Linked DNA regions of Homo sapiens: region 1 is linked to region 2. The links come from fine-mapping of genetic effects on gene expression. A gene starts in region 2. The other region holds a variant in brackets. All regions are shown on one strand. Distances are from middle to middle.

Evidence for each region. PIP is the estimated chance that this variant, and not a neighbour inherited with it, causes the effect.
Region 1: its variant is fine-mapped to the expression of ABHD17C in whole blood (INTERVAL, PIP above 0.99). The same link has a PIP of 0.9 or more in neutrophils.

The regions. Positions count from the first base shown.
Region 1 is chr15:80,720,058-80,722,962 of GRCh38, reverse strand. All of the region lies in intron 1 of ABHD17C (abhydrolase domain containing 17C, depalmitoylase), which reads right to left. Among named protein-coding and RNA genes, the nearest start is that of ABHD17C, 26 kb to the right of the region's middle. The variant G/A (reference allele first, on the strand shown) is at 1,358.
Region 2 is chr15:80,693,737-80,696,641 of GRCh38, reverse strand. It overlaps ABHD17C (abhydrolase domain containing 17C, depalmitoylase), which reads right to left and starts at 1,332. Exons shown (of 3, transcript NM_021214.2): 1 at 623-1,332. The coding sequence starts at 1,212. RefSeq lists silencers at 509-568, 989-1,038, 1,129-1,548, 1,569-1,678, 1,699-1,858 and 1 more and an enhancer at 729-798.

The DNA.
Region 1 (2,905 bases), 26 kb before region 2:
TCCATCCAAGGTTGGTTGAATCTGTAGATGCGAAAGCTAACTGTACTACTCAGCCCTTAGAAAGATGGAAATCCTGCCAATTACAACAACATGGATGGTCCTGCAGAACTTTATGCTACATGAAATAAGCCAGACACAGAAAGACACATGCTACGTGATCTCACTTACATGTGGAATCTAAATAGGCAAACACATGAAGCACAGAGTAGAATGGTGGTTGCCAGGCGTTAGGGGAGACAGTAATGGGGAGGTGTTGGTTAAAGGGTACCAAGTTTCAGTTATATGAAATAAATATCTGGAGGTCTACCGTACAGTATAGAGCATATGATTAACAATACTGCGTTGTACACTTAAAAATTAACCAACAGGGAAGATCTCATGTAAAGTGCTCTTACCACAAAAGGAAAAAAAAAAAGGGTGGGCAAGAGAAAACTTCTGGAGTGATGGATAAGTTTATGGCAACAACAGTGATGACAGTTTGATGGTTTCATAGGTGTAAACTTCAAATACATCAAGTTGTATATATTAAATATCTACAGCTTTTTGTATGTCAATCACAGCGCAACAAAGCAGTTCTTTTAAAAAAGATTCCTTTCTCATAGTGAAGATAAAGGGGAAACATTAAAAAAAAAAAAAAAAAAGATTCCTTTGGCTTCTAGTTCAAAATGATGACCTGAGCCCATCTGTTCACTTTTCAACCAATCCAAACATCACTGGAAAAGCAGCATAAAAATTAGAAAGAAATAAACTTACAACAGCAGAGAGAATAGGAAGACAGGGAAAAATCAGAAGGAATTCCAGTGCGCTTCTCGGTAACTGAAGGTGTGTGGAAACAAACTGACGGATAAAATCGAGTGGAGAACTCTGTCCAGGACATGCTATAACAGGGCTGCAGGGAAGATGGAAACCACCTGAATCCCAGAGAGGATTCCGACTCAAAATTAGCATGCAACTAAAAATAGGTAAATTATAGGAAGTCTGAACAGAAAGTTATACAAATCCAACTCCCTTCCCAACACAAAGTATAAAGCCCTCCTGGGTGAGCTAAGACTTTTAGTTGGTGCTCTCAAGGAAAGTCATCCTTATGCTGGCACTGGGGGGCCTCCTTCCCTCCAGAAACAAAGTCTACCACAACAAGGAAGGAGGCCCCCAGTGCCCTACTGGCTGCGTGTGTCTGAAAGCCCCCAGCCAAATTTCCTCTTGCGGGAGAGGCCTGGCAAGGAATACCACCTTACGCTGCACAGAGGAAACCCAACCTGGTTACCCAATCTTTCCTTCCTCAGTGTAAACTGAAGAACAAAAGTGACGACAATGACAATAGCATTTATGGCACATCTGCTATTTTGCCTGTGATGAC[G/A]ATGACAATGACGATAGCATTTACGGCACATTTGCTATTTGCCTGGCACAATTCTAAAAGTACATGTACTAAATGATTTAATGTTCAATACCTCTAGCAGTTGGATATCATTATTATTAAAGTACTTTGCAATTAGGAAATGAAAAAGCCAAGATTCAGCCCAAATCTGAGCCAGTGACCAGGCTCTTTATCACCAAGCTAACCTACCAACATACAAGGAAAGCTAGCAGCATCAAAGACCCAAGTATCTTTCACAGAGGACTCAGACAGGTATGGGACCAGCATATAGGGCTTAAAAAAATAAGTATACTCTTGGATTTATGAAAATATATCCTTAAAACAAGAGCAGGATGTTATGAAAAAGGGAAGTCAAAGAGTTAAAAAAAAAAAAAGACAAAAAATGATGGGTAAACACAAAATCTAACTCACAGTCCCAAAAATAAAGTTGAAGAGGCCTCTCAGAATATCAAACAAAGTAGACAAAAAGATGGAGAATATGGGAGACAAGGAAAATCCAGAGGTCAGTATAATAGAAGTTGTAATAAAAGACACCTATGAAAATGTAGGAAAAGAAATTTTGAAAGAAATATTAAAGAAAATCTCTGAGACCAAAGGATCCAAGTCTTCAGTCGGTAAGGGCCCCCATTAAGTGTTCAACATAAATTAATATTTTTTTTTTTTTTTTGAGACAGAGTCTCACTCTGTTGCCCAGGCTGGAGTGCAGTGGCGTGATCTCGGCTCACTGCAACCTCCACCTCCCGGGTTCAAGTGATTCTCCTGCCTCAGCCTCCCAAGTAGCTGGGATTACAGGCACCCGTCACCACGCCTGGCTAATTTTTGTATTTTTAGTAGAGACGGAGTTTCACCATGTTGGCCAGGTTGGTCACAAACTCCTGACCTCAGGTGATCCGCCTGCCTAGGCCTCCCAAAGAGCTGGGATTACAGGCATGAGCCACTGCGTCCGGCCATTAATAATCATTTTTAAAAGACCCTCCCTTGGAATATTTTTGTAAAACTTCAGAACACAAAGAATATATATAAAAAAATCCTAAAAGCTTCCTTAGAAGAAAAAACAGGCCAGCTTCAAGAAACCAGAACCAGTCCAGCACCAGGCTCTGCATTCCAGGTGCCTACAGGACAATGCCTTCTACATTCTCAAGTCAACTGACCTTCAGACATGGATCCATCAAGTGGTTTCTAGAAAGTTTACCTCCTACATTTCCATTCCTTTGAAGATATTACAAACTTCCTCTAGCAAAACTAGAAAGAGAACCAAGAAAGAACAAGTAGAAACTGGAAAACAGGGGGCCCACCAAGAAAGGGGAAAGGCCTCAGGTGATCCCTGAGTCCTGGGCAGGGAAGCAGAAAATTAAATTGGGAGAAAGTGAAAGGTTCCAAAAGACAAGGGAGAGTGTGATGCAAAAGACAGTGTAACAAAGAAGACAGAAACATCTGAGCAAATGATGAAACCCCACGATCCTTTTCTAAACAACAAAAAGAAAAGGAGGCTGGTTGCGGTAGCTCACGCCTGTAATCTCAGCACTTTGG
Region 2 (2,905 bases):
TGGAAGGTGCCAGGCCCACAGCTACCAGCTAACTTCCTGCCCCACAGTGCCACTACTTTGCCCCACCAGGAGGCAAACTCCCCGCTCCACCTGACGCTCCAGCTGTTTCCAAGGTTGCCCAGACATTGTCCTGCCCGCACTTTACAACCAGAAAGTCTTTTAGAGGCCATCCTGTCTCGCCCACTGACTTTACAGGGAAGGAAACTGAGTCTAGAAACCCATGTGCCTTGCCCAAGGTCACTTCAGCTCGTACAAACGAAACTCGAACCAAGTTGTTTCTTTCTGCCCGGTACTTAAGCACCCACACTCTGCCACTCGCGGTGACCGGAGCCACAAAAGACCCAGCCGGTGGGCCGGCGACACACAGGCGAGCCAAAGCAGGCAAAATTCTCTGAGTCCGAGCTCTCCAGGAACCTGAAGGCTGGCGCGGTTTTTGGAGAGGGTGGGAGCAAGCCAGGGTGGGACAAGAAAAGCGAATTTACGGCGGCCAAGGGGCTCTCCGCTGGCCCTCAGCCCCGGAGGAGGGGCCCCTCTCCTGGCAGGCCGCCCCAGGGGCCCCAAGAGACCCCCACCCCGCCTCCCCACAGCTGGAAGTCAGGCCTGGCGACCCCGGCAGGCTCACCGGGTGCGCAGCGCCTGCCACGCGGCGTCGATGTCGGCGTAGAGGTTCTTCTCGGAGGGCTTGCCCGAGCTGACGCCGTATCCCGAGTAGTCGTAGGAGAAGATGTTGCAGTTGATGCGGGAGCCGAGGCCAATGTAGAAGCTGCACATCTGGCCCAGGTCCACGGCGTTGCCGTGCGAGAAGAGCAGCGTGTAGCGGCTGGAGGGCGCGCAGCGCACGAACATGCAGCCGAGCCGGTTGTCCCGGGCCGTGCGCGAGAAGAAGACCTCGACGGCGTCCAGCTCGCGCTGCGAGTACTGCCAGTCGGCGCGCTCGCTGAGGTGCAGGCTGCACGCACCGGGCCCCGCGCCCGCGCCCTCCTCGGGCTGCTGCGGTGCCGGCTGGGCCGCGGCGGCGGCGGCGGTAGCCTGGGCCGGGGCCGGGGCGGACGCGCCGGCGCCGCGCTGCTCCGGCGCCAGCACCGTGTAGGTGGGCTCGGGCGGCAGGAAGGCCAGCTTGGCGGCGATGCGGCTCGGGCAGGGCGGGCAGCAGAAGAGCCAGCACAGCTCACCCAGCGAGAAGCCGTTCATCCTGGGGCCTGGCTCGGGCATCGGGACGGCCTGGTGCCCGCCGCCGGCCCGGCTGGCTGGCTGGCTGGCTGGCCCGGGAGGACGGAGGACGGACGCGCGGCGAGGGAGCTGGCAGGCGAGCGCGGAGGGCGGCTGCAGCCCGCCCGCCCGGCGGCAGGAGGAGGCGGAGGCGGAGGAGGGCAGGAGGCGGGGCCGGCCCGGCGGGCGCGGCGCTCGGAGCCCGGGCGGGTCAGCGGCGGCCCCGGAACCCAGGCGAGGCGCGGGCGGCCCGGGCCCGCGCGCGGCACACAAAGCCGGCGGCGGCGTCCATGGCCGGCTCGTGCGCGCCGCCCCCCGCTCCCGTTCCCGCTCCCGCACGCCCGCCGCCGCCGCCGCCGCCGCCGCCACTTCCGGGTTACCGCGCGGCGGCGCCGCCGCTGGGACGCGGCGCAGAGCCGGGCATCGGGGCGGGGCGCTGCGGGCAAGGGCGCGGGCACCTTCCCCGGCCTGGGAAGCACCTTCTCGACCTGCGGCCGACGGGGGCTTCCAGGCGGCTCCGGGGCCCGGAGAAGCTGGGTGCCGGGGCTGGGGGCTCTGCGCCCGGACAGCTGGGCCGATCTGCAGAGGGGACCCTGGAGGGGGTGCATGTGTCCCGGGGTGGACCGCTCCCCTCCCCTCCCCCTGGGATTCCCTCCCCCAAATCCAGGTTTCTCCCGTGGATGGAGGTTCTTGGGAGTCTACTGAAAAGGAAACTAAGGGGTGGACAAGAGTTGGAATGTGCCCGAAATATTTGGCTCTCGTGTGTGCTGCTTTCTGAACTGGCTCAGTACCAAAAGTTCTCAGCACCGTAAGGGGTACCGGGGTTGTGGGATAGGGTGGTCATCAGTGTGTTTCTTATTAGGAGAGGCTGTTTCTGTATAGGTAGCAACAGCGTTTCCTTTCTAAGGGCATGGTTTTACCCTTAGTACATTTCTGTATCTATAAAAGTCAGCTGTTAGAACAGGAGGGTACTGTATTTAGCAACAAACCATGTTGAGGTTGTCATTTCTAATCCCACGTGTGGCAGATTTTCCGGTAGTAAGTATATACTAGGTATCGTTTACAGTGTTTGTGTCTCTAGAGTTGTTTTGGGTCCAGGATTTTTCAGTGGTCTTAGTCATGAACGATTCTTATACTGCTTTAAATCTACTGTAATCTTGGCAGCCACCTTTACATGATTTTTCAAATATAACTCTCGGTGCCTTGAAACTGTGCTCTGGTGCCAGTTTCCACAGAGCCTTCTATACTTCCTTTTTCCCGCCTGATTTGGCAGCTGAAGAATTCCCTTTCAGGAACTGACAGGAGATACCCTTCCTGGACTGCCAGCAGGGCAGCTAGAGACTGGGAGGTTGGCACAATCCCTACGCTGGGTCTGTTGTTTTAACTCACAGATGTCCTGAGAATTTTACCTTTCGTTGTGACTTTCCACAGGACGAATATTTTGAGCACCGTCATCTAAATGAATTGCCGATACTGATTTCATTAACCTTCAGGACCTCGCTTTTAATTTTTTCTTTTTTAAGAGACAGGGTCTTACTGTATTGTCCAGGCTGGACTCCCAACTCCTGGGCTCAAATGACCCTCCGGCCTGCCTCCCAAGTAGCTAGGACTACCGGCACATGCCACCTTGCCCAGCTAGGACCTGGGTTTTAAAAGGCCATTTCTTCACTAAAACAATTTTACTTGTTTTTGAACT